Linked DNA regions of Homo sapiens: regions 1, 2, 4, 5 and 6 are each reported to be linked to region 3. The links are microRNA targets in miRTarBase. Many come from high-throughput screens and were not tested one by one. Region 3 holds a microRNA gene; each other region holds the end of a gene's coding sequence.

The links. Region 3 holds the annotated microRNA hsa-miR-2681-5p (GUUUUACCACCUCCAGGAGACU, at 3,502-3,523, shown strand). A microRNA usually pairs through its seed, bases 2 to 8, with sites in the 3' UTR of a target mRNA and lowers its output. Matches are read on the target gene's strand: a 7mer-m8 pairs with bases 2 to 8, a 7mer-A1 pairs with bases 2 to 7 and ends in A, and an 8mer does both.
Region 1: the mRNA of KAT6A is a reported target of hsa-miR-2681-5p. Seed matches in the 3' UTR shown: 8mer at 3,001-3,008.
Region 2: the mRNA of NKX3-2 is a reported target of hsa-miR-2681-5p. Seed matches in the 3' UTR shown: 7mer-A1 at 2,808-2,814.
Region 4: miRTarBase lists CREBL2 as a target of hsa-miR-2681-5p. Seed matches in the 3' UTR shown: 7mer-A1 at 1,081-1,087.
Region 5: miRTarBase lists DCAF8 as a target of hsa-miR-2681-5p. Seed matches in the 3' UTR shown: 7mer-m8 at 1,916-1,922.
Region 6: miRTarBase lists ZHX1 as a target of hsa-miR-2681-5p. Seed matches in the 3' UTR shown: 7mer-A1 at 4,661-4,667, 7mer-A1 at 4,876-4,882, 8mer at 4,895-4,902 and 7mer-A1 at 5,000-5,006.

What each region holds. Positions count from the first base shown.
Region 1 is chr8:41,927,750-41,932,843 of GRCh38, forward strand. It overlaps KAT6A (lysine acetyltransferase 6A), which reads right to left. Exons shown (of 17, transcript NM_006766.5): 17 at 1,730-5,094. The coding sequence ends at 4,456. Among named protein-coding and RNA genes, the nearest start is that of KAT6A-AS1, 120 kb to the right of the region's middle. RefSeq lists a silencer at 3,322-3,616.
Region 2 is chr4:13,538,093-13,543,186 of GRCh38, forward strand. NKX3-2 (NK3 homeobox 2) reads right to left here. Exons shown (of 2, transcript NM_001189.4): 2 at 2,738-4,436. The coding sequence ends at 3,901. Among named protein-coding and RNA genes, the nearest start is that of NKX3-2, 3.9 kb to the right of the region's middle. RefSeq lists a silencer at 4,212-4,341.
Region 3 is chr13:101,966,133-101,971,226 of GRCh38, reverse strand. MIR2681 (microRNA 2681) reads left to right here and starts at 3,481; the gene lies at 3,481-3,585. It also overlaps a transcript of FGF14 not described here.
Region 4 is chr12:12,640,993-12,646,086 of GRCh38, reverse strand. CREBL2 (cAMP responsive element binding protein like 2) reads right to left here. Exons shown (of 4, transcript NM_001310.4): 4 at 979-4,093. The coding sequence ends at 4,089. Among named protein-coding and RNA genes, the nearest start is that of CREBL2, 32 kb to the right of the region's middle. RefSeq lists a silencer at 492-551 and an enhancer at 1,576-2,775.
Region 5 is chr1:160,213,549-160,218,642 of GRCh38, reverse strand. It overlaps DCAF8 (DDB1 and CUL4 associated factor 8), which reads left to right. Exons shown (of 14, transcript NM_015726.4): 13 at 203-319; 14 at 935-2,923. The coding sequence ends at 1,051. PEA15 (proliferation and apoptosis adaptor protein 15) reads right to left here. Exons shown (of 4, transcript NM_003768.5): 4 at 3,271-5,094. Among named protein-coding and RNA genes, the nearest start is that of PEA15-AS1, 7.2 kb to the right of the region's middle.
Region 6 is chr8:123,249,663-123,254,756 of GRCh38, reverse strand. ZHX1 (zinc fingers and homeoboxes 1) reads left to right here. Exons shown (of 4, transcript NM_007222.5): 3 at 1-1,435; 4 at 4,437-5,094. The coding sequence ends at 1,432. The region is part of intron 2 of ZHX1-C8orf76 (ZHX1-C8orf76 readthrough); the gene reads left to right. Among named protein-coding and RNA genes, the nearest start is that of C8orf76, 11 kb to the right of the region's middle. RefSeq lists an enhancer at 3,503-3,712.

The DNA.
Region 1 (5,094 bases), not on the chromosome of region 3:
CCAGCCTGGGCGACAAGAGCGAGACTCCATCTCAAAAAAAAAAAAAAAAAAAAAGAATTCCAGACACTTGTCAACACTAAAAATGTTACTCTAAATGATATTTTGAGTTTACAGGAATCATTCATTTGAATTTTTAGGTTTCTTGAATATCACATCAATAAGTAGAGCTCCTTTCCCCCACCACTCATCATAAGGATCCTGCATACTCTGTTCTGCCAAAGATAGCATTTTTTGTTTCTTTCACTATTCCTTTCAATTACCATCACCATTGACCCACATCTTGTACATTATGAAAAGACTAGAGGAAGGAATATGACGAAAATCACCACACTGCCTGAGCTGTGATTTGGATAATCTGAAATAATAATTTTCACCTAAAGAGCTGGAACTGTGAGGCTGCCAAGACTGGTGTTTAGGGAGTTCATACAGGTGTCACCATGCTACAAAGGAAGCCAGGCACCACCTAAAGTGCCCAGAAAGGCTTTAAAAGAATGTGATTCCTGGTGCTCTAGTTTCTGAAAGTTCGACGACAGGTTGGTGGACTAGGGTTCTCAGTATCACACACATTGAGTGTGTCATCCTCCCCAATCTACTGTCAGCAGGAGGTGGAGAGACAACAAAGAAATAGGAGCACCTCCCCTACTCCGAACAACTCATTTGTTCCTTGGCTATACATGGGATTATATAATTCAAATAATACTTAAATGCAATATAAATATATTTATGTATGTTTTTTGAAAGTCTAGAATAGTCTTTGGCCACATTATCTCTTATATTGAAAAAACATAATTGGTTTATGTTGAAATCACTTAAAGCAAATACTCTTCAGTGGCAAAGGCAAGAATGTTTTCAAGACAATCCACTAGTAATTGCATAGCACAGTGACACAGCCTGTGTCCAAATAATGGTTATATAAGCCAGCCAAGAAATCAACGGACATACATCATTCCTTTTGAGATGACATGACTATACTGTCTAAACTTTAAACAGCATGAAATTCAGAACAAATGTCTGCTATAGGTAGTATCATGTACAGTTCCTCAATTCCTCAGTGTGAAGGGGCAGAGGAAGTGTGGAGGCCGCTAAAACTTGAACCTGCCTCACTGCCTACCACCAGAAACTAAGGCCAATTTCCCAAAGTGAAATCAAATTTTCTGGACTCTGCCTCCTGTCCACAATTCTAAATGATGAGAGGCAAACACAACCCAAGAGACCACCAAAAAGTAATCAGCATTCAGGGCCTTGAATTCTGGCAAAAGGAGAATGACGAATCTTCCTAGATTACCCAATTAGGTAAAATGAAATGAAAAAAAACCCACAACGCTTTTAAAAATACTGTTACATTATAAAATAAGATCTATAAAAATTACTCCTCCCATTTATCACAAGTCTAGGAGCTACTTGTTATTGCAATTGCTTTTTTTTAGGGGAGTGGGGGGGACGGGAATTAAAATCCCTTTAGGAGGTTTTTATATGAATGCCCCTACAAAATCCAAAGTAGGGTTACCGTGCCATGTTCCTTGGAAATGGAAAACCCATCCATATTGTTGGCATTTAAACACAGACATAAATGAAAACTGGAATTTCAAAGCAAAGGCCATGGACTTGTACTCCTATAATAAAGAGGAAAATGAAAAGACTAATGTTTATAGGTCTCTGGGTGTAGAACAAGAATTGAAGAGTTCTGACATACTGGGAAGGGAGAAAAATTCCACATGCAAGACAGACATCCAAAATGGCTCAACATAATTTATTTTTTATGTTAAAATGTACAGAGTTCTTTTGAAAGTACTTGCTAGAAAGGGGAAAAAAAGGTATTACATACAAGGAGAGGAAGGGAGGCCGGCTGGCCCAGGAGCGCGTGACATGGAGAGATACAAAGGCATCTAGGCACCCCTTCCCCTTAGCTTACAAGTCACCATGAACAAAGTACAAAGAGGTTACAAAACAGGAAAAGCAAATATAAACAGACAGGATAGACGTGGCTTCCTTTGTACATGCGGCTTTTAGAGGCATCTGGAGCTCTATTCACACACGCTAGAGATCTCTTTAAAGAGAATTTATCTTTCTTAAAATAGTTTTTAATATTCTACAACAAAGATAAAAAATTTTAAAGATGGAATGAAATGAAAAAGCTCTTATTTTAAAAGGCATCAAAGTCACTAACAGTGAGTTTTTAAATTTCTTTTTTAGAAGATTACCCAAGTTATCTTGCTAAAAATACATTTTTTTTAAACAGAAGTGAAAAAATGACAGGTACCAATATTACTGTGTTGGATAATTTCTTTTATAATATAGAAAAGAACTTTTTTTTTCTACAATAGTTCTACAGTCACAAAGAGGCTTGTGGAAAAGGGAGCTGCCCGATTGAATTTTTTATAAAGAAACAAACAAAACCAAACACAACCGCAAACCAACAGAAACTGATTTCACGGCCCTCATTTCAACAGCTTCTCCTTCTGCCTTGACCCACCCTCCTCCCAATATACCTCCCTCCCGACCCACCCCGTCCCCACCCCAACCAGGAAGCAATGACACAGCTGAAGATGTAGGGCGATGGCAGCACAGTGCACTTTCTACATAGATGACTGGGAACTGGAATAGTATATACAGAGAAACTGGGTCCTACACAGCCTTGCACATGCTCAGAGCTGAGAGCGGGAAGATGTGGAATTCTGCGTTTCTACCTAGCACGCTTGAGAAAGTCAATTAAAGTGTATTAAAAAAACCAACAAACCTGTGCATTTGAAAAAAGTTAATGCCTAATTAGTACTTTAAAAATTTATCTATATAAAATGTACAAATAAAGGAGAGAATTTAATGCTTACAGATATTTCTCTAAGCAGTACTTCCCCCTTTTGGATATTTGACTGCACATACCAAGTGGTATAATAGTTTCCATCTTCTAATGATGGAATATATATATATATATATGTGTGTGTGTGTGTGTGTGTGTGTGTGTATATATATATATATATATTTTTTTTTTTTTTTTTTTTTTTTTTACCTATCCCTGGAGCAAGTAATAGGAAGAGAATGGGCAAACTGGTTGCACGAGAGAAAAGAGAATGGAGTTGGGAGCAACACATGAACTTGCGTTATAACATTCTGCTGTCCAGATCTGCCCTACTGTGCTGGTGGTCGGTCTGTCCCTCTTCTCATTAGCCACTCACAGGAGAGGTGCTTGTGCACTCTGATTCACAGGGGATGAACTCAGGATCTCAAAAGACATACAAAAACTAGAGGTATGTATCACTTAAATAGCTACGAAACTCACACCGTGATCTCCCTTCTGACACACATCTGCGCCATCTCTTCCAACATAAAATAAACTGTTTCAATGGTTTGTCAGTTATTTTTCAAATCACTAAAATGTACAGTCATCCACCAACAATTTAAGAAAGAACCTAAGAGGCAAATCACTGGGGACTGCTATTTGAGTTTTATCAGTCAAAGGCTCAAGCATCAAGACCCTCAGTTAGCATTTCAAAGTACATACTAGAAACAAGAGGCTGGGTGGCGTGTGTGTGCGTTATGGCTGATTCACCAGGTGGTAAAAAAACAAGAGGTTAATCTCCTCTTTTTGATTGTTAATTGACCATCTCTATTCCTCCAAAGGCTGGATTTGGATTGCAAACAGCTTTTCTCTGAGATTCTGCTGTTAATTGAGACTTACAGTATTTTTGTGTCTCTGAGTGCTGAGTGGGAATATTTTAAAAAAGAAGAAAAAAATTATATTACACTTGATTCAAGAACAACAAAGATTTCAATGAAGTCCGTCTATAAAGAAACATTCTTGGGGAAGGGTTTCAAGAGGTGTGTGTGTGTGAGGAGTGGAGGGGATTTTAAAAGGAGAAGCATTTTCCTGCCTCACTTTATTAATAATAATAATAATAATATTAACAATAATAATAAGTTTAAGGAGCTTGGGTTGTTCTCCATGTCCCCATCCGAGTCTCCCCTAAGTGCCTCCTGCTGGAATGAAGTAGGAAATGAAAGGTTGGGTTTGGAGGAAAGGGTCTGGTTAACCCTTGAGATGTATATAACATTTAAAAATGACAACATTGGGAGCTGCAAACAGTGAGGGGAAACATACATTTTAAAATAAAGATAATTCACTTTTACACAAATTCTGTCCATGTGGTATGTAAAGAAAGTAAGGCTCTTTTTAATTATGAAAAGATTTTGTGCATGTTTCCCCATCCCCAAATCCATTTTTAGATGAGTTCTACTGTAAAATGTTCAAGATTGTGAAGAAAACCAAAACCCAGAACAAAATGAACCCAAAAAAAGAGAAGATCAGGTTTTCTAAAAAATAAAATAAACCAAAGAAAAATTCCTCTAAATCTACAGCAATATTTTAACTGGAAAAAGGTCCATTTTTCTCTGGTTTGTCAGTATAAAAGGTTCCTTTATTTATATATATTTAAGTTTTTGATTGCAAGTTCATCTTGCTCATCTTCTCATGTAAGGTCCGTTGAGTGACTGCTTGGGCACGCCAGCAGCGTTCATGTAGCTGTGATGGGAGGGGCCTGTGTACATCATGTTCCCATGAGGGTTAGGCTGCATAGGCTGCTGGGTATAGGCCTGGCTCCCCATCATTCCCATCTGCATCTGCATAGGATACTGTGCTGTCTGGTTCATGTAGGCAGGGTTACTATGGTAACTGCTGTTCATCATGGGCTGTGTCATTCGATAGCTGTTCATGGCATTCAAGGTGTTCATATTCATGGAATTGACATTATAGGCGGGAGTAGGCATCAGATTAACCCCCATGTTCATGCCACGCTGAACAGCCAGTGCGCGAGGGCCAGCCTGCATGGCAACTGCCGATGGGCTACGGCCATACAGCTGCTGCTGGTGAGCAGCCGCAGAGGGCAGTGGCGCAGACTTGGAGCGGATGGAAATGTGCCCCTTCACTGGCATTTGCCCTTGCAATCTCTGCGTGTGAGGAATGCCAATGTTGGTGGCAGACATGTTGCACTGAAGCAGAGGAGATGTGAGGTTCATGGTAGTGGATGCCAAGTTTGGGGGTGGCGTCATGGTGGCTTGTGCTTGAGGAGTCCCAGCTAAGGGATGAGATGGAGCCAGCTG
Region 2 (5,094 bases), not on the chromosome of region 3:
AGCCCCAACTCAGAGGGCAGGCACTTGTGTTTGAGCCCGATTACAATCTTCTCGAATGATGCTTCACTGTCACCCTGTCACCTTTACCAGCGTGGGGGAGCAGTGAGGGTGCTGGGATTCGGTGCAGCCTGGAAACCATTTATTTTCTAAACCGGAACCCAGTCTCAACTCAGCCTGCTCATCTAAGATACTCTCTGGCGATCCAAGAGGCCCTCATACCCAATCTCTTGAAATGAGATGTGGTTTGGGACTAGCCAGGTCTGTCTCTCTCTCTTTTCTTTTTCTTTCTTTCTTTCTTTCTTTCTTTCTTTCTTTCTTTCTTTCTTTCTTTCTTTCTTTTTCTTTCTTTCTCTTTCTCTCTTTCTCTCTCACACACACGCATGCGCACACACATACACACACGCAGACCCACCAGCTACATTTGGCAGCTGGTTGATCCCAAATTTGCTGCTAGGAGTAAGATTTGTGGGCTCGGCCTGAATCCTTGGGACCAATTTCAGTGCAAGTGACATGATGTTCCGCCCCCTTTACCAGCCATTCCCCTCGCCTTGGTTTACCCATCTGTAGAGTGGGTGGATCTAATTCGAAAATCCCCAAGGCCAAGTTCTAAGATTCGCTAAGCGCCAAAGGGACTGAGAACGATGAAGAGGCCCAAGGTTCATTGGGCCCAGGCGGCAGTTGCTACTGCTCCGGGGACCAAGCCCAGAGAAGGCCGAGAGGGCTCAGCGCAGCACAGGGATGCAGGCAGTGGGTGAACAGAGATACCCTCGAGTAGGGAGCAGGACTGTTCTTCATCTTTCCAAAAAAAAGAAAAAAGAAAGAAAAAAGAGAGAAAGGCGGAGAGAAGATAGAGGAGAAAGTAAAGAAAAGGAAGAAAGTAATACTGCAAATTTTCAACGGGAGCCGCGTCTGCGGCAGAAGACCCAGGTAAAGACATTGGTCTGGGTCGCAAAATACGGCGAGAACTCCTTGGAGGACAGGCTGGACCCAGAGGTCGCCTCCAGCTCCCAGAATCAGACCTCAGGGCATTCTCGCCAAGGCAAACCGCGGGACAGCTTGGAGGGAAACAGCCATAATCTGGATCAAACTGAATTCATTTGAGTCATTTTCCCCGGGCAGCCGGAGCCAGTCCGCGGAGCTGGCCCAGGCAGGGGGCCCGAGAGTGGGAGAGAAAGGGAAGGGGCGCCCGGGTCCGCAGGGTAGGTGGAGTCTGCGGTGGAAGATGGAGCCGCCAGGGGTGCGACCGGGACCTCTGTGGCTTTTCCTACTCTAAAGAAACTCCCGGATTCTTTCACCGCCCAATCGGCAAAGATGGAGAACAAACTACCCTCTTAAGACGCAGCAACAAGCAACTGCCTTTTCAGAAAGGGAGAAAATCCCTCCTCCTAAAAAACCCCTCAGTAAGTAGTGATCCCTGGGGAGAAGAAGGGAGGAGATTCTAGTATTATCGGAAATGTTCCAACTCTCTACAAGAAAAACACAGTCATGATTAATTGTATAATTTAAATAGAACTGTAAAGCATTTTATAAAGAAACGAGATGATTGCATTTATAAAGAAACGAGATGATTGCAAGAACCATATGGAAGGTAGTTGGACTCCAGTGGGGGACCGGGTGGGAGTGTGCATATCCCGAGGGCCTTTGCTTCTCCCTTTACATTTTGCTGTTTCTGGAAGCGGGGATAATTTTGTAAAACGCTGGTCACCACGCTCCGCCCGGGCCAGATCCGAGGGCTTGAGGGACCCCAGGCCAAGGCCTTTAGGGTACCAAAGCTTGGAGGCCCGGGGGCTGGGAAAAGTCGCGGTTGCCTTGGAGAGCTAATCGACCTTTCGGCCCCAGGTGAAATTGAAAGAAGCCTTGGCCAGGGTTTTGGTGTTTCCCGACTCGGGTCCAGCGGACTGGAGGCCTCAACGCCCGCAATGTGGCATTAACTCTTCCTTGCTCGCCGGGAACTCGGCTTGAGCTGCCAGTGAAAGTGAGCATTTAGCTCCAGTGAATCCGTAGCATTCTGGGGAGTCTGGGAGCGCCAGCTGCGTATGATCATCTGTAAAATGGGGTAATAAATAACGGTGCCCTGCCCATTCTCTGCTCCCCGGGTGGGCTTCGGTGTGTACCAAATGACGCCCTTTCATTGAGTGCGGGGAAGCGCTTTGAAACCTTGTAGAGCCCCAATTGCACCCGTCCGAGGAAAACGCTCGGGTGACCCTTCTCCGAGAGACAGGTTATTCACGCCTGGTTTGCAACTAATCGCTTCAGAATTTTAGCGGGAGTTTTCACTAAACCACTCTCAAAACTAAACACTAGATAAGGTAGAGAAACGCTCCTAAAATCGAAAGCAGAGAACAGGGTGGGGTGGGGTGAGGGGAGATGAAAGGGTCGGTACATTGGGATGGGGGATGGACATTGGCTGGGGGTTCAACCATGGACTCTTACTAGGCTCTGAAACCAATGCTCACAGGGAGGATGGGGAGAAATCCTAGGAATTTGTTCCCGGTTTCAGTGGGATTCATCCATTACTCCTGCAAAGCCCCCGAAGTCATGATTTTTCTGAGCTGCCCAGGTTTATAACCTGCCTGAGGAGTGGGCGGGCAGCAGGGCTGCTCCCAGGAGAGACTAAGCATCCTTGGTCCGAGACTAAAAGGAGGTTGGAAAAAGCCCCAGCTATTTCCAGCTCGCCTTACTGGTTCCCCAAAAGTCGGGAAAAGACAGTTTCAGAGAAAACGCGGCGTCCAGGAGGGCATGTTAAACTAAAAGTTTATAAATTAAAGAAAAAATACAGCGAATAGAGCTTCCAAACTTCACAAATCTTTTTACAGTTAATACTCTAGTTGAGTGCACAGTGCCATTAAGGAGGCGAAAAGCGGCGAGGTTGACAAGACAGGTGGGATCACCTGTTTAAGGGTAAGTGAGGGGCGGATAGGGGAGTCCCGGGCCAGAGCACTGGAGTCGCAGAGGGCAGAAGGTAGACACTGAGGGCCAGGCAGCGGCACTGCGGTGGGCGCCGTGGAAAGGCTGGCCAGGGATATTCACATTGAGTAGAAAAATAATCGTCATTTGAATACAAACAACTGAAAAGTGCGACACGTCTTAACCTCCTTTACACAAATAAAAAGAAACCAAGGAAAGTTTCCGCAGAGGGCTGCCTGGGTGTGCGCTCTCCTCCTTCCGGGACTCCCAGGCGCTTCCTGCTTGTGCAGGTACCTGGACTTCAGAGAAGGAAGATGTGGAGACCCCCGGCTTGCACCACACTTGGAGGCTCCCCTCCTTACATTCAGCACCCGAATCGGGCACCCCCACCCTAGCTCTGACACACAGGAGGGGTGGAGCAGAGGGCCTGAAAACCCAATCCTTCACGTTTCAAATCAACCCCTGGCCTGGTGCTGCCTGGGACTGCCAGGGTTTCGCACCCCTTGGTTACAAATGCAATTTCCAAAAATAAAAGATATGTAGATACACATAGATTGGTAGCATGGATACCATGAACTAGTGTGGCCTAGTGCAGAAAGCTCCCAGCAGGCCTGAAATTCTGAGGATTCAGGCTATGTGGTCTCCAGGAGTTGCCGCTCAGGGAAAACCCCACCCCCAGGCAGACATATTCGAATCAAAATTTAATTCCAACATTGTCATGATAATAAATAGAGCCCAGGGGCTTCCAGGCAGGTGGGCGATCAGGGCCCCTAGGCCATAGGGTGCCTCTGTTCAAATTAGAAAAAGGCGCCCCCTCAGGGCAGACTCAGCCCAGCTGCCAGGGGACAAGTCCTGGCTAACGGGAGCTGGAGCTGGGTTTCACCTCCAGGTGCCTCCTTGGCGGGGCGCCCCGTGCAGGCTACAGCCTACAGCTGTCAGCGCCGGTCCGGAGCCGGAGCGCGGGAATCACTCGCTGCCTCAGCCCAAGCGGGTTCACTGGGTGCCTGCGGCAGCTGCGCAGGTGGAGAGCGCCCAGCCTGGGAGGCAGTAGTACGGGTAATAGTAGGAGGGCTGCAGTGGCAGAAGCGAGGGTGGCCGCAGCACTTCGCCGGGCAGGTATTGTCTCTGGTCGTCGCGCACCAGCACCTTTACGGCCACCTTCTTGGCGGCGGGCGCCGAGGCCAGCAGGTCGGCTGCCATCTGCCGGCGCTTTGTCTTGTAGCGACGGTTCTGGAACCAGATTTTCACCTGCGTCTCGGTGAGCTTCAGCGACGCGGCCAGGTCTGCGCGCTCGGGCCCGGACAGGTAGCGCTGGTGGTTAAAGCGGCGCTCCAGCTCGAAGACCTGCGCGTGGGAGAAAGCGGCCCGCGAGCGCTTCTTGCGTGGCTTGGGCGCCGCCGGCTCCTCCTCCTCCTCCGCGACGCCTGCCGGCCCGCTGCCGCCCCCGCCGCCGGCCCCGCTGCACAGCGCGGACACGTGTGCACCTCTGGGGCCAACACCGTCGTCCTCGGTCCTTGGGCTGCGGTCGCCTGCGGACCCCGGTGGGAACAGAAACAAGAGACTGTCAGCGCCACAGACGAGGTGAGGCCGGGCCTCAACTGCAGGGGTCACGGGAGTGGGGCGGAAATACACTTTGATCCCACTCAAGCGGAGCGGAGGTCTGGGAGGCCCTGGGCCCGGGAGACCAGTCTTAGACTCTTGCCCCACTGGGTATCCCATCTAGGCCTCTTCTGGGGAGGGCGGCAGACTCAGCCGCTGTGTCAACGCTGTGTTGTCGAGACCAGCTCCCCACCCTCTCTGGGCCCCAGGCTCCCCTCAGTAACTTGGGGCACTCGACCCGAGCATCCGCGAAAGCCCTCCCGGCTCTCAGCGTTGAGCATTGGGATTCTAGACTGCATTTCCGTCTCTCTGCTTGGGTTCACGCGCCTCTCCACACTTAGTTCACACGCACACACGCGCGCGTCCTCGCAGCACACACTTGTCTGGTGCAGGTAAGGGAAGGTGGAGGCGGATCCTGGGGCCAAAGGTATTTAGAATCTTTCACCCTCAGCCGCCTGGGATTGCTGTGAGAGACATGGAAACAGGCTGAGCCGAGGCCTTAGATGAGAGGATGGACTGGAGAGTAAAGAGGGAGGGTTGCCCCTGCATCGAGTTTTTGGACCCTGATCCCACACCAGCTTCTCGGTC
Region 3 (5,094 bases):
AATTAAAACTTAATTTTGCATACAGAAATTTCTGTATCCCCTATTAAGTAACTGGAAACATCACTGCAAAAAAACTATAAAATCTATATTTTGTTATTTTCTTATCTATCTAGGATCTATTGGGGTGAAGGGAACTTTCCACCCATCCTCTGAAGGTTCGATCTCTGTAATAAACTTGATAACTTGATAGTAGAGAGATTAACAGAAGAAACAGCATATAAACTATGTGCATATGCATAGGAGTCCCCAAAAATATGAGACTCAGAGAAGGGCCAGATGGTTGACTCTTAAATATCATTTTGAGCTACAGAGAGAAATAGGGGCTTCAAGGCTCCTGGAGGGTGGTGGTGACAGGCTATGGGAGGGTTGGTAGAGTGAATGCACTATGAACAAAAGTGGTCTTATTATGCAGACAAAGTCTCTCAGGCAGCAGAATAGACAAAACAGAAGAATAGATGAAAAGTCTGTCTGCATGTAGTGTTTTGGGTGGGGAGGTCTTTAATATGCTCTCCTGCACCTTCTCTGGTTAATTTAGATTCCAAGGAAGGCGTTTAGAGCAAATGCATTTTTTCTTCTGGTGGAACTTTCCTTACAGTCAGACATGGAGACTCCAAAGAAATCCCCTTCCTGTGCTTTAGGAGAGGCAGAGGGGCAAAAGACACAGGACAGAAGAAAGTCAAAGCAACCTTGATTCTAAGGCTTCTTTAGTTGGAAGTACTCAGCATGTCAAAGAGGCATGCCTTGGGGTATTGTTTTCTGAGCGGAAGCAGATCCCAGGATCTGAATATTTGATTAATCTGCAATCCTGAAAAGTCACTCAGGGGATCCTCTAGACAGAACAAATTACAAGAGAATCTCAAAAATGTTTTTGGTTGAAGGAACCATATGAAAATAATAAAATGTATTGCATATAAGGGCAATTAATTTTAAACCCATACTGGGAATAAATTGAATTGAATAAATGTTTCCTGTTGTACTGAAGATAAAAATAGGCTTTGAGTTCAAAGATCTGCATACAAGGTCTAGATCTCCTGTGTATTGTCTCTGTAAAGAACCGAAAAATATTCAGCCTCTCTGAGCCTCAGTCCCCTCATCTTCAAAATATGACATTTAAGTGGGGTCTCCCAGACTTGATAACCAATGGAGTGAATTAGCAAAAGCTGCCACACTATTATTCATCTTGAATAAAATAAAAGACAATCAAGAGAGATTAAGAGATTGCTATAAGGCAGATGACAATAAGGCCAGAAGAGAAAGCATCTGAAATGTTCTGACCCATAAATTACGAATGTTTGCTACCGGCAGGAATACTTAAAAGAAATGAACACTCAGTTTTTGCCCTTTAAAGGCACTCATTGTCAAGATATGGGGTGTTTTGTAGACTAGAACAATAGAGCAACCTCCACCCAACCTCTCCTTTCACCCCAGTCATCACAACTCAGGGCCTCATCAAATAAAAATTCCTTTTTTCTAATTGGATGCCACTTTTCTACTCTAGGCAGCAACTTGTTCATACAAAATGTAACATAAGCCAAAATTTAAAATTGGTAGAAATATGCAAATTTTGAGTTCAATTTACGGTGAAAAATAGTCTTACAAGCAGTCATGTGGATGTAGTGTGTGCAATGATAATAAGAAATGAGGGAGACCACAAGGCTATTGATTAGGGTTTCACAAATGACTCATTAGAGCCCTATTCCTTCACCAGATTGAAATATAATGTTTAGAAGGCATCAGGAAACTTCAAAGGCAGGAGTATTTTGGCTTTACCAATGACTAACAGCCAGAAACACTAGACTATACCATTTCTTTTTTTTTGTTATTTTTAGTAGAGACGGGGATTCACCGTGTTAGCCAGGATGGTCTCGATCTCCTGACCTTGTGATCCGCCCACCTCGGCCTCCCAAAGTGCTGGGATTACAGGCGTGAGCCACTGCACCCAGCCTAGACTATACCGTTTCTTATCCTTCAATCCCCAGTAACCAGACCAGATGAAGTTGTTTATTTGGTAACTTACCCACCCATGATAAGTGACAACTATGAGCTAAGTGCTGGCACAGGTAGTTATGAAGACCTAGGCAGTCCACCCCTTCACAAAGGTGGATCTAAGCATGACTCCAAGGCATGGAGCCCACTGGCCAGATTTTCCTTACCTCCCCTTCCACTGACCATCCTTGTTTCTTTCAACTAGTGAGTTCTGTGCTAGCTTCAGGCTCTAGGCATGCCCTTCTCTTCTGTCCATACCAAGGAATTGTGGATGGAAAGTGACCTGGTGATAAAAACCCATCTTCCTTAAAGTACCCTCCCTGCTTCCAAACCCCCAGCTTTTTTCAACTCAAACAATGCCCAGATTTAAAAAAAAAAAAAAAAAAGGCTGTTGATGGAATGCATGATTACAGAACAAATGAAAAGTGAGTTAAAAGAGTTGTGGGGGAACACTTAGTCTGGCAGCTGTATGATCTCACACTTTTGTGGCTGTGACTTTTGTAATTGTGGTATTCTTAAGTATAAAATACAGGAAATATTGATATTGAGGTTTTTTTTTTTTTTTTTGGAGACGGAGTCTCGCTCTGTCGCCCAGGCTGGATTGCAGTGGCACGATCTCAGCTCACTGCAAGCTCCGTCTCCCAGGTTCACGCCATTCTCCTGCCTCAGCCTCCCGAGTAGCTGGGACTGCAGGCGCCTGCCACCACGCCTGGCTAATTTTTTGTATTTTTAGTGGAGACGGGGTTTCACCATGTTAGTCAGGATGGTCTCGATCTCCTGACCTCATGATCCGCCTGCCTCGGTCTCCCAAAGTGCTGGGATTACAGGCATGAGCCACCACGCCCAGCCTAAGCTGTATTTTTTTTAATGTGTTCAGTAGCTGTTAAAATAAGATTTTGTACATCCAACAGGTAAAATATTTTGTTACTGTTCAGTATCTTGCAAAAAATATTTTTTAGACTTTTTGTCAGGCTTATTATGACATGCTTAATAAATTAGGCATAGCCATTACATAACAATTTCACCTTTATGCATTTATATGAATTTATCTTCATTTCTTAGACAAGATTTATCTACTTATAACTGCACTTTCACTCATTTGAGTAACAGAGGTTGGTTGTAGAATGTAATCAATTATAGATTCCCTTCCAAGTCATCAGTCATGCTAATAAAATGAAGACAATCATTTTAAGAATTATTTTCAAGTGTTAGCAGAGAGCTACAAATTTACAGCATGACCATTGACCCAGTGACTCATCTCCATTACAGTTATGGGTGAACTTGCAATTTGGAAATAGAAAATGTTACCTCTGTTACCAGCATGTCCAAGCCATCACCCCATTTTATCCTGGGAGTGTTCATGTATCAGATTTTCTTCCTTCTGATTAGGCAGCAGGAATTTATTGGGTGTTTAATGTGTCTAAGCCATGCAATAGGTTTTGTAGAGGATTCAATAGAGGTTAAAAAGACATCAAGAGCAAAGATATGCTCTCTGCCCCCTTTTCACGCATTTGTGTTTTACCACCTCCAGGAGACTGCCCAAAGACTCTTCAGTATCATGGAGTTGGTAAAGCACAGATGCATGAATAATTCAACGTGTAAGCTATCTAAAGAAGCACCTTGATTAGAGGAATCAATGAGAGGAGAACATTTAAAAACAGATGTGCTTACTTATGCCTTCCAGTGTTTGCATTGTTTTTCTTGTATTTTGCTTGTGTTATTCATTAGAAGGAATTAGAGGTTCCTCCCACACAGCATAAATGTTCTCACTGCATGACCTTGAAATAATCAAGCTTTGTTTATACTGCAGAAACTGATATTGGTACACATTTAGCTCAAAACAATTTTAACTTTACCACAATCAGAAGGAAAACATTATGAAAACAGTCAAGTAAACATAGGACAGTGGTTCTCTTAATGTATACAAGGATTATCTATCTGAGATTAGTTTACAAATGACTTTAGACATTCTGACTCAATAGAACACTCCACCCTCAGACATTCTTACTCAACAGAAGAAGTCACTTTGATTCGGTAGGTTTGGGATGAGCCTTGAAAAATCTGAATTTTAAGGTTCATTCTAAGTGACTGAGATGCAGGAAGCCCAAAAGCATCCTCTGGGATGTTGTGCTACAGAACCTAATGAATGTCACAGAGATGCTAGCTTTGTGCTGTTTTTCAAAGAGCTGAACAAAATAGCATTATGTCAGTCCTGGATGTTCTTATTAAAAAACTTGGTTTAGGTAACTGCTGATATCAGTTTAAACTGACAAACCAAATTCTTACACTCGTAGAGTAATATTCTTAGGCATTCCTTTAAGTTTCTTTCATTATATGAGCCGGAGTCCAGCTACAGTTCGCCAAACAATAACGAACTGTCTCACGATCCTTCTGTCTTCTGTATTTCTAGGTCGTCCCTAAGAAAGCATCAACAACTGAGTGGTTTAAACACAATGATTTGGCCAGGCGCGGTGGCTGACGCCTGTAATCCCAGCACTTAGGGAGGCCGAGGTGGGTGGATCATGAGGTCAGGGGTTCGAGACCAGCCTGACCAACATGGTGAAACCCCATCTCTACTAAAAATACAAAAATTAGCTGGGCGTGGTGGTGGGCACCTGTAATCCCAGCTACTCAGGAGGCTGAGGAAGGAGAATTGCTTGAACCTGGGAGGCGGAGGTTGCAGTGAGGCGAGATGGCACCACTGCATTCCAGCCTGGGCGACAGAGCGAGACTCTGTCTCAAAAAAACAAAAACAAAAACAAAAAAAACCACAAGATTTATTCTCTAACAGTTCTGGAATCTGAGTCCAAAATCAAGGTTTCTGCAGAACCATGCTCCCTCCAGAGTCTGTATTTGCCTCTTCCTAGTTTCTGCAAGTGGCCATTGGTCTTTGGCAATCCTTGATATTCTTTGTCTCGTAAATCATCACCCCAATTTCTGCCTTCATCTTCTCATGGTGTTCTTTTTGCATAAGTGTGTTTTCTCTGTGTCTAAATTTCCCATTTTTATAAGAACACCAGTTATATGGCAATAGAGCCCACCCTGATGACCTCATTTCAACCCACTTACCTTTGTGAAGAACCTGTTTTCAAATAAGCTTACAGTCTG
Region 4 (5,094 bases), not on the chromosome of region 3:
CTGTGACCCGTAACAGTTTCTGAGTCAGAACTACCATATGTCTGTGAACCAATCTGAATTTGATACGGACAACTCCAAGCTGCCTACAGCTTTATAAAAAGAGTTCTTCCAGGTCTATGTGTCCTTTAATCATACACATTTTAGGACTCCAGTGTGCCTGCTCTGGGAAATGCAATGCTAGCCTACATCGGGCCTTTTTCAGTGGTGTGTTAGAAACTGACTGAGGGGGTGGGGGATCCACAATTTGCAGCATTTACTAACTTCTATGATACAAATACTCCTACCATTGTCCATTAAAAGCTACCAACCTGATGTCACTGAACATCAAGTTGGGAAGAGATGCACACAATTGGTTCTCCTCTGGGGAGCCAGCAAAAGCCAGCTGCAACACACCACGGCTTTGCACATTTTTAAAAAGGCACCCCCTGGTGGATGTATTAAGACAGGTATCCCCTTTGGGCAAATTAGAAAAAGACACCTCTTCTGGGGAGACCTGTGCCACATGTACACCTTGGTGAGAAGGCAAGAGCCCCTTCCTCCACACGTAGCTTGTTGAGGGGAATGTGAACTAGATTTTAAAGTCCATTCGCCTCCTTAACTATGTACTTTTGTGCAGTGCAAAATCAGCACAACTTTACAAGGCAGTCCTGCCACTGATTCATGACCATCGTGTAGTTAAATAAAACGGATGGAATAGAAGACAGCCAAGTTACCTAGCAGCCTGAAAGACTACTTTATGTGGATAATTATAGGATGATATTGCCAGTTGAAGTATTAGTTGTTCTTAAAATTAGTCTAATTAATAGAAGGCTATTATTGATAAAAAGGGCCCCCGACTATACCATTCCGAAGATAGACATGATATAGCTAAAAAGACTTGGGAAATGTGATACCTACAGTACCACATATTTAGAGTCCAACTCATTAAATATATTGATCTTTAGTGACTTAAATGCTAACAATAGTCAAACACAGGCATAATGTGAATATTTAAATTTAATGTAGTTCTTCCCTATTTAACAGTTTTCTGTAACTCCTATTTAGCCTACCAATTACCCTGTGAAAGTTATCCTCCCCCCTTTTTTACAGATGAGAAAGCAGGCTGAGAGATCAAATAACTCAAGGTGACTCAGAAAATAATTCAAGGTGACTCCTCCTTTTAAAACTAAATATGTAATGGATAATATGCAACTGATTTCTTGTGAAATATAACATTTATGTTTTTAGATTTTCTTTGCCTTTAACTCAAGCTAAGTCCAGTTTAAACCTGTACTTTTTGTAATTAGCCAAATCAAATGATCATAATTCAAAGATGCTAAAACAGAATGCTACATAGTGATGCTGAGAAATACTGTCAATTAGCCAGCAAACAGTAATCTGAATTTGCGCAGGATGATCATTCTAATTTAGATATAATGGAAAGATTTTAGATAAAATAGAAAACTTTTTAAAGAAATTCAACTATATCCTAAAACTTGACCTGGTCAAACTTATTCCATATTATATTCAGTTGCTCTAATATACAGCAGGTTGATACTAAAATAATGACAGAATTTGGCTGGTCTAAACATACAAATATATTTTCCCCCTTTTCTTTCTTTGGGAAAATAAGAAAAAAAACATTACTCTGTTTACTCAGAAAGCAAGGAGAGCAGCACCTTCTCCTGGACTCCGTGACTGTCAGCCATCTTGTCATCACAAAAAGGTGAGGGGTGCCAGGATTTCACTATGCTGCTCCTTCACTGGAAAGGGAAGGAAATGCTCCAGCTGTTTTAATCAGTGACATTTATTAACATGCTTCAAAAGTGACCAAAGTGTCCAGCCAGCACAATAGCCGAGGCAATCAACGTTCTCTTAGTGTGTGATCTCCTCCAAAACACCAAATAAATAGGTTTAGGAATAACCTCAAATAAATTGTAATTTAACTTCGCCCAAAATTATACATCCTCTACTGCTCTTCCCTGCTCCTGTAAAGATACTAGCGGGAGGGGAGAAAGCTCAAATGACTCTGTAATTTAGAATTACAACCAGAGAAGAAATACTTCAAGCACAATAAAGACGTTCCATTGAAGAGCGACATTCATTCTGGAATGTTTGTTTTGAAAACAACTCTTCTGGGGGAATTCAAAAGGTACTGAACAAAGCAACATAAAGTAAGTTTTGGGTTGTTTTGCAAAATAAAAATATACAATTGAGTGGACCAGATGGCAAAAACATACCAATTACAATCTGAATGCTATATTTAAAACCCTTAAATTCTGAAGGCCTGAATATCAACAAACCTATTTATGTTTATGATCCTAAAAAGACATTAAATATTATTAAACCCCCAACTTCCAAAACATAGAGACCCAGCAAACTGGGCTAGTGGTATCTCAGTACACAGTCACACATGACTAGACTAGACTAGACTAGACTAGACTAGAGATCTGAGTTTGCAACCAAGTACAAGAGGTCTTTAGGAGCTCAGGCTAAGGGAGGCACTTTATTCAAATGCATGGCCTGAGAGAAGAGGGAAAGTACCTTGTAATCTTAAACTATGTGGTCCATCATATATTCTACCTCAAAGACAATCTAGACTACGGTATCTCCTCTTAAACTGCCAGTTCAGAACAAAATATACTTTATTTGGAAGCTAAATATTTGCTTCACTCAAGTGAAGAATAATTTAGCAGCGACAGAGAACACAACTCCTGTTTTAACCATGGGAAAGAGAAGAGAGAGTGGTAAGTATCTCGCTGGGGAAATCAAAAGATTTCTGGGTCTGTCTGGGTGTATCATATTATGAGCTTGATTCTTCAACCGTCACTCCATTTGGTAGTCAGGGAGAAAGTAAGTGTAGCTGCAAGGGGAAATGGAAAGAACTACCCTGCCCTTCTGCACCCCCAGCCAGGCCCACTAGCTGCGGTGCTGTGCACAACTCCAGTTCCAATGCTTCCCTCCACAGTGGAGGCATATCCAGGGCTGAACCAGATGCACGCCCACAGTGTGTTTCTGGCTCAGAGCCTGTCAGGAAATTCATGTCTGGGAAGAAACTAAGTGTTCTGGTGATGGCTACAGTCAGTAGATCTACCAGCAATTTGTCCCTTTTTTTGTTTCAGATTTTAAGGCAGAAACTCAATCTCAGCAGCTAATTTCATCCAATTTTCTTCAGAAACATTCTCCAATTTAGTTGAGTACGCAAGAAAAGTGTGTGAACATTCACTCCTGTCCTCCCCACATACATATATAGACATACAATAAGAAACATACATACATATATACCCTAGATTGTCAATGTATGCTGCTGAAATGCCTGAAAGGTTACTTTTCACTTAAAAATAAAATTTGATGAATTATTCTGCAAGTATGGATTTGGCCCTAGCAAATTTTTATAAATATAGTTTGAGAGGACAGCAACAAAGGTTTTAACTAGAAGCTGTCTTGAGGGTTTTCCTGATAGATATTGTTAATATGTATGTTATTTAAAACAGGCATATCCTTATGGATTATAAAAATAGAAATGTATATATTTGTTAATACATATTCACAGCTTATGCTGGAATGGCTCACAGGAGAAATCATGGTTCATGCAGAGAATAAACATTACTCAAGTAAATAAAAATAAGATTAGGTCCATAAAGGCTGAGAACTTATAGTCAGTAATCAGCTCATTTGGTTTCTCTTTGTAGGGCAATCAAAAACATGAAAGGTGGTGACACATAAAACACACACAGACATACAATTACATGAATTACATGGAAAGAATATAAATTAACCAATAAAGCAATGTGGAGTTAAGGTGCAAAAATACAATCTTCATCGATTTTCTCTACTCCTGTGTTTTCAAGCATCACAACATGTTAAATGTCATGGGTGGCAATACCAACCCAGACAGGTCTGAATGTTTGTAGATTTTCTAAGTGTTGAAAGTTAAAGCAAGATCCTTTGAGATCTACGATCACACATTTTGGTAGAAATTGCAGATTTACAGAGATGACTACTGAGCAGTAGGTAGTAAATGGAGCCAAGAAGTACACTCTTGCCCATCCATCTTCCATGGGAATCAGAATATTGGCTTCAATCACTGACTCATCTTTATATAATCTTCACCCTGAAAAATAAAAGTTACCAATGTAAGAATGTTTTTAGAGTCAATAAAGTTTGATTAATCTGTTTTAAGATGCATAAATTTTTTTTTTCAGTTTAGTATCTTCAGTAAGGCTAATTTTTAAAAATACAGACTAAAAAAAAGCTGATTTGGCTTTTTTCCATTAATTTAATTTAGATGAAGCCAAATGTTTTAATTTTTAAACATTTCAGTAGCTTTTGGGGTAGAAGTGGTTTTTGGTTACGTGGGTGAATTGTATAGTGGTGGAGTCTGATATTTTAGTGCACTTGTCAACCTAGATGAAGACAAATGTTATCTAATAAAAGTTATCAAAAAGCCGATTTCTTCAATTTTGTAAAAAATACTGAAAACATAAGAAGTTTGTTCTAGATGGGCGTGGTAGCTCACACCTGTAATCCTAGCACTTTGGGAGGCCAAGGCGGGTGAATTACCTGAAGTCAGGAGTTCAAGACCAGCCTGGCCAACATGGTGAAACCCTGTCTCTACTAAAAATACAAAAAATTAGCCGGGTGCAGTGCCATACACTTGTAACCCCAGCTACTTGGGAGGCTGAGGCAGGAGAATCGCTTGAACCTGGGAGGCAGAGGTTGCAGTGAGCCAAGATCGTGCCACTGCACTCCAGCCTGGGTGACAGAGCGAGACTTCTTCTCAAAAAAAAAAATATTGAAACATTGTTCTGTGCTCCCAGAGGTTGACCTAAAAAAAAAAAAAATAAAAAAAAATAATAATAATAATAATAATAATAATAAAGGTTTGTGACATTTCTTTATAGCTATTTAAAGTGCTCCCAGAGCAATCACAATAATGAAGAAATCAACATAGGACATATTCATTTTAAAGTCTTTCCAGTTTCTTCAACAAATGTTGCTTGGACAACTAGATACTCACATGCAACATATGGACTCCCACTTTATACCATATAGAAAAATTAATTCAAAATGGATCAATCACCCAAATAAAAGAGTTAAAACCATAAAATTCTT
Region 5 (5,094 bases), not on the chromosome of region 3:
ATAAGGAGCATCTTTAAGAATTATTCTGTATTAAAGCCTGCTACCTTTTCAGCAGCTGAACCTAGGGCATCATTTCCTAATCTAATGTAGCTCCACTTCAACTTAAGGGAAGCTTTTATTGGGATAGGAGATCAGCCTTCTTGATCAGGTCCCGGGTTCCTCTTCATTGCTGCCCCCTCTTCCCAACCTTTTTGGGTTCCAGGTGATTAAGAAGAACAAGCGGGAGCGGGATGAAGATAGCTTGCACCAAACTGACCTGTTTGATAGTCACATGCTGTGGTTCCTTATGCATCACCTGAGACAGAGACGCCATCACCGGGTAAGCTAGGGTTGGAAATGAATTCCCAAGGGAGTGACCCTTTTAAGAGGGCTAAAAAGTTCCAGAGTAGTGACTTCAAGCAGTAATCAGGTGATCTTGGTCGGATTTCCTATCCACTGTCCTCTGTCCCCATCAGATCCCTGATATAGCCTTGGAAGAGACATCAGCAGAAAAGGGTGGTATCTACTTTTGTCCATTGCCGTCCATGTGTAATGCTATCTTCATAAAGGCAAAAGCTGGAGGGTGGAGGAGGGAATTGAGAAGAAATAACAAGTCTCAGTGTGACCCTTCTATTTTTCCTCTTATGCCAAAAGAGGCCTAGTTCAGGGGTTGGCAAACTGGCAGTTGGCCTGCTGCTGGTTTTTGTAAATAAAGTTTCATTGGCTTGCAGCCATACCCATTCTGTGTATTGTCTGTGGCGGCCTTCACGCTACAATGAGTTGAATAGTTGCAATAAAGACCATATAGACCACAAGTCTAAAGTATTTACTCTCTGGCCCTTTAAGAAAAATTCTGCTGATCTCTGGCCTAAAGCATCTAAATTCTGGCTAAGACCTAACAGGCTTGTCCTTGTTCCATCCAGGGAAGTTACTAACAAGCCTTTCCCATCCACAGCGCTGGCGAGAACCTGGGGTTGGGGCCACAGACGCGGACTCTGATGAGTCTCCCAGCTCCTCAGACACATCGGACGAGGAGGAGGGCCCTGACCGGGTGCAGTGCATGCCATCTTGAGGCCTCATACCTAGGTGGGGCAGGCTGGGGCTGCCAACCTGATCCTGCCTGGGCAACCCTTTCCTGTCCCAGGCCCTACATTCAGCAGAAACGCACTTTGGACTTTTTGCTTTAGATAAAAGAAAGACATCCCAGGAGAAGGACAAACCAGAGGAGTGAACCAACAAAGAGTACCTAGGAATGGGAGTTGAGCCCTGGAATGGGGCTCTATGGAGAGGTGCATAGGACTCGGCAGAAATGGCCTCTCCCCAAAGCCTCTTTTTGAGAGGAGAGGGAAGCCTATTTTGTTAACTGGTTTGGGATAGGGAATGGGGTTTCTTTTTCTTTAATCTCCCTTGTTTCTTGGGCTGGGGGAGGGGTGGGGGGAACAACTGGCTATTCAGTACCAAGGGGCCAGAGTGGAGGGTAGGAGTGCCACTCTCTCTTTGGTTTAGGTTTTTGACCTTTTCTTCCTTTGTTTTTTAAAAGTTTATGACAGTTGGCTCCCCCCCCACCCCCAGCAACCCCATCCCAGAATCCTATTTTCCTGGGAAGTCCTTAAAGCCCCTAACCATCCCACACTCTTCACTTTCCTTTCCACCTTATTCATTCTCTGTACTTACCACAGTATTTTGCACTTGATTACATATCCTTCACTCTCTTCTCTTCATCCCATCACCCCCTAAATAGGTCAGGTGAGGGAGGCTGGGAAGAGGTGGGAGGAGGGGCAGAAGTGAAGGAAGAATAGGAAGGATATTACCTCTTCTGTTATTTTTTTAAGAAACATTGTTTGGTGGCAGCAATCTCCCTGTCCCTATCACTGTTAGAGGCCTAATTTTATATCTATAAATATATTAAAAAGCAAGTCAAACTTGGATGTATCAAGGTAAAATTATTGTCAAAGTTTAAATACCTATATATTCTCTGAATGCAATAAAGGGACTTAAGAGTGAACAAGAGTAATGGTGTGGAAGTGACACCTGGGGTCAGTTTACCTCTGTGTATGGTCACTAGAGATTGGGACTTACCCTTTAGGTTTTAGGAGGCTTGAGAATGGAAGGATCCTCATTTCTGCCCTTCCTGGTTCCCTGCTTTGGTGTAGGGGTTGGGAAAAACAGGAAATTCCTCTCAGCTCTGCCTCAGATCTCCTACCTCTCCTTAAGTCTTGTAGGGGGTTCCAAGGATGGCTCTTCTAACCAGAGGCTGGCCTGTCTTTAAAACTTAACTACTTTAGGGTGGTGCCACCACTGCAGACTATTGTGGTACTTTGTGACAGAAGACATGTACACACACACCACACACATACATACACACTCTCTCACTCTGTCTCTCTTACCTTTAGCTGCTTGATCATTAAGCCATCCAACTTCATGCCAGTTCCCTTCTTTATAGAAGAGTGAAGGGAAAGACTTCCTGGGTTTGACTTAAACCTTGTCCACCTCTTGATATTTTAGGATTGAGGAATAAGTCATTAATCTAAGGACTGATTACAGTGGCTGGAGCTTGGGCACTTGTCTTATCACTGGTCACTGAGTCTGAAAGTCCCAGCTGAATTCTTGCCCTTAAGTGCTTTTGCTGCTATTTTTTTGCCCCCAGTTCCACAAGATCCAACCAAGAATTCTGTATCCTGGGACAGTCAGATTCTTCTAAATCAGGCCAGGAAGGAGGGGAAAAGAGTGAGAGAATGGTATTCCCAGATACTTCTTCCTCCTGCCCCTTTTCCCAGCAGCTCTGAGACCAGATGTTGGCTGCTGTACTTACTCCCTGAGGTAGGGAATGTGTGGTGATCGAGTGGTCTGTGTTCCTATTGCTGGTGGGGTGATAGGGTGGGCTAAAAACCATGCACTCTGGAATTTGTTGTATTTTCTCCCAGTAAAGCTTTTCTTCTCCCGACTGCTGCTCTGTGTGGTATGTGGTCCATTTATTCACAATGGATGGTTTTTGTTCCTACTAATGTAGGTACCTAGCCTTCCCCTCTCATTCTGCACATGATACAGTGTTAGAAAGTCCATTTTGGGAGACCCGTATTTCCAGTGCTTGGGCTCCAATTGGAGACTGTTGGAAGTAGGATACACTCCATTTAGCTCAGTGATACTTAGGAGATTGGGTGGGGTGAGGGTATACACTTGGGGTATTTTCCCAGCCCTTATTCTGGGCCATAAATATTGTTCCCCCTCCCTTCCCAGTGATTCAAAGCCTGCAAAATCCTGGTCACTCACAGAAATTTTAAAATCAGTTAGTTGCAATACAATCAATCACCTTTATTCCGGGTTAGAACAAGGCCGTGCACACTGCAGACAGAAGAGCACAAGATAGGGGCAATCTCACAGCAATATAAGGAGTGGGTGGGCAGGTTAGTCTTTTTAGATTATTTTGCCTTACAGAGAAACTACTAGACTCTGCTGAAAAGAACCCTGTCTCTCTTCTCCCATTTCTTCCATAAGAAAGGCTCCTTATTCTCTCTCTCACTCTAATGTAACATATCCCAAATGGAAGGACAGTTCATGCTCATTCCCCCCACCCAATTCTACAAGTATCTCTCTCTTCTTAAGGGAGAAGCCAGACAGGGAAAGGGAGACTTGGGAAGGTCCTTTAAGGCAAAACTGTGGAGTCCTAGAGGTGTGTGTGTTAAGGCAGGTGTCTGCAGCAGTGGCCAGAGGGGCAGGGCACGCTAGGCTGGGCTAGGAGTTAAGAGTACTGTCTAACCAGTCTGGCTTCTTCCTTCTTCCAGCAGCCAGCCCTCCCCTCCCATTAAAGTTTTACTCCCACATCCTAAAAGCTCCTAACTTGAACTTTGTCTAAATAGTCTCTGAGACTGCATGTGAATTTAATGTTTTTTGAAAAAGCCTTCTTTTTTGTTTGGACTATGTAGCAATTTGATTCTGCCACTCCCTTCACTGTGGCATTCCCCTCCCACCCCCGCTCTGGCCTAGACAATAAGTTAATGCTAGACACCACAAAAAAGGGCAGACATGGCAGTGCAGTTTTAATATACATATATGTAGAATATATATGTACACACAGTTAGCACGGTCAGGGTGGGGAGGGGCATCTTGGGGTAGGCAGGAGGCTGGGGTCACTCACTGTACTGTAGTGATGTGGCTAGGAGGTGTTCACAAGCCCAGGGGGCCAGGATATCTAGTAAAGAAGGGTTTCCTAAGTAAGTCCCTTCCGGGATTGAATTGGGGTGGGGATCGGTGCAAAGGAAAACACTGTAGTTAACTTCTTTCTGGCTTGGGATGTTCTTCACCAAGGAGAGAGGGAAGGTTGCCTACAATAACCAAGTTGGGACCCTATAGATGGTGGTGTCAGGATTCGTGTTAAAACCTAAGGGTCTCATTCTTCAACCTCCCTAGGTTTAGAGTGCAACAGTCTGAGTAGGAACAACTGAGTGGAAGAGGGGGCTCCCCTCTCTCTGCCCTCATCCCCATCTCAGGCTCAGTGGTACATGTTCCCAGCACAGTCTCTCCAGAGTACAGGTGGGTGGGGGCATCTAACGCTGGCTGCTCCATGGGGTTTGATCTTAGGGACCAGGAAAGGATCCCTGGCTCATACCTATGCTAGGCCCATGAGAGACAAAAAGGGACCTGCTGGTACTCAGGAAACAGTCCAGCACAGGAGTACAAACATGGAACTCTGGCTTTTCTTTGCCCCTTCCAGGTGGGGGTTGAGTGGTCTCTTTGCCTTCCGTCCCCACTGCTTTTCCCTGGATCCACCTACCTCTCCCATACCTTACCCCTATGTCAGCTCCTCAATGTAGGAAAATGCAGGTCCTTTCTGCTTCCACACTTTAAAGATATGGGGGGAGTGGAGGAAAGGGAAGTAGGAGGAATGTGCTGATTTCTATTTGCATAGAAATAGCCCCCACCTCCTCCTAAAGTGGGGAAACTCAGCCCCCTCCCCTAGCCCCTGACCCCCATCCCCTTAAGAAGAGGAACTAGATGAGCTAGACATATAGACAAACAGCCAGAGCGTGCGCACACGCACACACACGCGCACAGTAAGGGGGTTAGGACCAGGTTAGTAAGTGGGTAGATGGTGGGTTGCCCTTGCCCCCTCTCCTG
Region 6 (5,094 bases), not on the chromosome of region 3:
CCTTACTCAAGTGGCTGGAACAAACACCTTGCCAGTTACAGCACCTATAGCCTTGACAGTGGCAGGCGTTCCAAGTCAAAATAATATACAGAAAAGTCAGGTACCTGCTGCTCAGCCTACTGCAGAAACAAAGCCAGCAACAGCAGCAGTTCCAACTTCTCAAAGTGTCAAACATGAAACTGCATTGGTAAACCCTGATTCATTTGGCATTCGGGCAAAAAAGACAAAAGAGCAACTGGCAGAATTAAAAGTTAGCTACCTTAAAAATCAGTTTCCCCATGATTCAGAAATTATCAGACTTATGAAAATAACAGGCCTGACGAAAGGAGAGATTAAAAAATGGTTTAGTGACACAAGGTACAACCAGAGAAATTCAAAGAGTAATCAGTGCTTACATCTCAACAATGATTCCTCTACCACCATTATTATAGACTCCAGTGATGAAACCACGGAATCCCCAACTGTTGGTACTGCACAGCCTAAGCAATCCTGGAATCCTTTTCCTGACTTTACTCCCCAAAAGTTTAAAGAGAAAACTGCAGAGCAGCTTCGTGTCCTTCAGGCAAGTTTTCTCAACAGCTCTGTACTTACAGATGAAGAATTAAATAGGTTAAGGGCACAAACCAAACTTACCAGAAGAGAAATCGATGCTTGGTTTACAGAGAAGAAGAAATCAAAAGCTTTAAAGGAAGAGAAAATGGAAATAGATGAAAGTAATGCAGGTAGTTCCAAAGAAGAAGCTGGAGAAACTTCTCCTGCAGATGAATCTGGTGCACCTAAGTCAGGGAGTACAGGCAAGATATGTAAAAAAACACCTGAGCAGCTGCACATGCTTAAGAGTGCATTTGTCCGGACACAGTGGCCATCACCAGAAGAGTATGACAAGTTGGCCAAAGAAAGCGGGCTTGCTAGAACAGACATAGTTAGTTGGTTTGGGGACACCCGTTATGCTTGGAAGAATGGAAACTTGAAATGGTACTACTACTATCAGAGCGCCAATTCAAGTAGTATGAATGGTCTGTCTTCCCTTAGGAAAAGAGGGAGAGGGAGACCCAAAGGACGGGGAAGAGGAAGACCGCGTGGGCGGCCTAGAGGAAGCAAAAGAATTAACAACTGGGACAGGGGACCATCACTCATAAAATTTAAAACTGGAACTGCAATACTTAAGGATTATTACCTGAAGCACAAGTTTCTTAATGAGCAAGACCTTGATGAACTTGTTAACAAATCACATATGGGCTATGAGCAGGTCAGAGAGTGGTTTGCAGAAAGACAGAGAAGATCAGAATTAGGTATAGAATTATTTGAGGAAAATGAGGAGGAAGATGAAGTTATTGATGACCAGGAAGAGGATGAAGAAGAAACAGATGATAGTGACACTTGGGAACCTCCACGACATGTGAAACGGAAGCTGTCTAAATCAGATGACTGAAATGTAAGTTAAGAAAATTTTTAATCTGCGTATATGTTCATCAACCACATACATTTTGAACAGTCACCTTGTTGTATCAGTCATCTTCATTTTTGATATTTTCTGAAGTAGTTTTTCTTTTCCCTAATAAGACTAGGTACCACTAGTATAGCTAAGAGATAAATGATTATCATGTGTAGTTTTATTATTATTATGTAGAGTTTAATGTCTTAATTATTATTTTTCATATGAATTGGGTTTTTTTTACTTTGTTTTGAAGGAAAGTTACCCAATCTCTATGAAGGGAGACTGGCAGGCAGGTTGAGGGGATTCACAAACAAATACTAAAGATAACTAAAATGTATTTTATTGCAATGCCCCCTTCACTAAAGCTTCATTTTTTGCCTATTTAAGGAAATAATTCAAAAATGAAAACTAAAAAGAAGGGGAAAAGTACACCAAAGGAAAGACTTACCACAGGGTTGAGGATTGTGCAGTTTTAGGAAACTAGGTGAAAATGGGTATCTTTTCATCTTCATTGCATTGCTCCCAAAACTTTACTAGACTTTTAACTAGAGTTTAAAATGCTTTATGTATTTATGAAATTACTCAGTATCTTTTTAGTAATTTATAAAATTACTCAATATCTTTTTCTGTTAAAAGTCAAAGGTCTGTTTTAGGCCATATATAAATTCATGTTTGCTTAGGCGGCATCTGTCTTTGAAAACTGTGATATAAATTATTTCTGTTTTAGAGATCAAAAGGCAAATAACAGATTTGATATAAACCCAATTGCTTAAAATATCTTTTCATTCTTTGGTATAAAACAAACCTGCTACCAGCACTAACATTGTATTTGATTTAAAGTATATCTCTGTAGTCTTAAAAATGCAAATAAATATGGCTTAAATTTGAAAGGTTTTGGCATGTTCCTTAAATCTTAGTTCTTTTATAAATTGGATTAATTAAAGTTGAACTGTAGTTGCAAATCAGATACCTGCTTTGGAGTTAGGAATTGAATTCTTAATACTTCTGGAATTTAATAACATAGTTTTATTCTTTGCTATTCTTTGTTTTGGAGTGTTCCGGGGTAAAAGTACACTGTTTTGAAAACAATGCAGTTGTCATGAAATGTTTGTGTATGTCTGTCAGTAGTCCAAATAGCATCTTGCTATCAGAAATGACTGCTGTGTTCAAACAGTAAGGAAGGAAATGAGACGTAGACCCTCATTATTATTTTATACGTGAGCATGCTTACTTATTTCCTTGGCTTTTTGCATGAGTATCCCATCCCCTACTTTTATGCTCTGTTATTCTGTGCAGTTTTTCCTTAATTCCCTTACATCTTCTCTCTGGTTTTATTTATTTTAACAATTATTTATAGAGAGCTTAATATGTACCAGGCACTATTCTTACTGCTTGGCAATCCTTTTTCAGGTTTTCTCCTTGTTAATATTTTTTAAGGGATAACAGATGAAACTAAAAATGTACCTGTTTTAATAAGCAGTATAAATATCATTCCAGGTTATAGGGTATAATGTAATCATTTTAGGTTATAAGAAGTTAAACAGTTTCATACAGCTTTATCCTGAAGTGCAGCCCTCCATTTCCTAATGTCAGAAATCTTCAGAGCAGGCTTTCTTCTGACCCAGATACATAAAATATTTTTAACAGGCATTTTTTTTATTGCTAAACACAAGAATGTGCACTCAGCCAAGATTAAATCAACAAATTTGTTGCTGCAGTGAATGTTGTTGTTGTAACCTCTGCAATGATTTTTTTGGGGAGTTGCAGTCTTCCAAAAATAATGTGAATTTTTCTGTACAGTTTAGTTTGACCTTTAATTTTGTATAGATAATTCTTATGTTATATATTAACACTGTAATGGATACTAATTCTGGTCAGAAAATTCATCCTAAAACTACAGTTTTCAAAAGACTGTATGATGTATGCTATACATGCACTGTATTAGTCCATTTTCACACTGCTATAAAGAACGACCTGAGACTGGGTAATTTATGAAGAAAAGAGGTTTAGTTGACTCACAGTTTTGCCGGCTTAACAAGAAGCATGACTGGGAGGCCCCAAGAAACTTACAGTCATGGCAGAAGGCGAAGGGGAAGAAGGGGAAGCAAGCACATCTCACCATGACCGAACAGGAGAGAGAGCGAAAGGGGATGTTCCACACAACTTTCAAACAACCAGATCTCCTGAGAACTCACTCACTATCATGAGAACAGCCAGAGGGGAAGTCCACCCCCATGATTCAGTCACCTCCCACCAGGCTCCCTCCCCCGACACTCCCTGATTAAAAGTTATGTATGGGCTTATACAATTTCAAATGTAAAAACAGCCTATTTACATATGTTGAAACAATAAGATTTTGTGGTATCACTGTCCCTTAATAATTACAATTCAAGGTAAGATTTGGATGGGGACACAGAGCCAAACCATATTATATACTTTTGTGATAGCATAGAAGCATGCCTTTTTAAATACACAAAAGTCTAAATTTCTGAAACATCAAGTTATCCTTGGCTGAGTAAAATAATTTTTCACTTATAAGAGGATTCACCATAGCCTTCTCTAAATAGTTATTTCTTCATTTAAATATTGTTCAATTTACCAAAAAAGTTACCAAAACCTTCCCAAAATAGTTATTACAGGAAGTGAGGTACATATATATCTTTTGCACCTTGTATAGAAATAGAAAAAAGTACAAGTCTTTAGATTTCATAGTCTGCTTATTACAGATACTGACAATGAAATATATACTCCCTGCTCATACAGTTTGAAATAAATTATTACATAAAGATGATAAATGTTTATAAGCAAATCTAGCATATGAAGAACATATACATAGATGAGTTGCACACAAAGCCTAGTGTATTATGGAAGACATATGTGGCAGGTAATCTCAAGAGAATACAAAAGATGTATTTTCACTTTTATTTCTAAAAGTAGTAAAAATTAAAATATGGTTTTCTTTAAATTTTCAGTTTTTTATGATGTTTTTCTTTTTTAGCTGCCTAAAACGTTGAAGGAGAATCAATTCTTCAACTCAAGATGTCTGATTTACTGTGAATTTGCCCAATCTTTGATGACATTGAAAACGTTTTGGGGCATACACACTCAAAAAGCAGGATCCAATACCCAAAAGAAATGGAACTTAATGTTGTGCCAAAGTTAAACTACTGCAGTTGGTGGAAGTTCTGCAATGTAAATAGAACACTAATTAAAAAACAACTTGTAAAAATGCAATTTAAATTTTAATACAGTACATTTTTCTTCTAATATGATGGAGACATTCTGAATCTTAGACTTTCTGAGGGGGTTTAATGACCACTAGAGCTTGTCCTCATATTCAGTCCAGTTTAATACTGTATGTCTAGTAAGATGGGCTATATATTGCCTCTATTCTTTGAGATGTGATTAAGCTTAGAACTTTGACCAAAAATTTTACAGTAAAAATTGTTAGAAATGGGTAAAAAAAAAAAAAAAAAAAAAACCCTGATTTATTACTATGTCTTATTTATCAGACCCTGCACTAAGATTAAAAGTTGTGCATGGGCTTATACAATTTCAAATGTAAAAACAGCCTATTTATATATGTTGAAACAATAAGATTTTATGGTTTCACTGGCCCTTAATAATTGGATCCTTCATTAAACACATCCATGAAT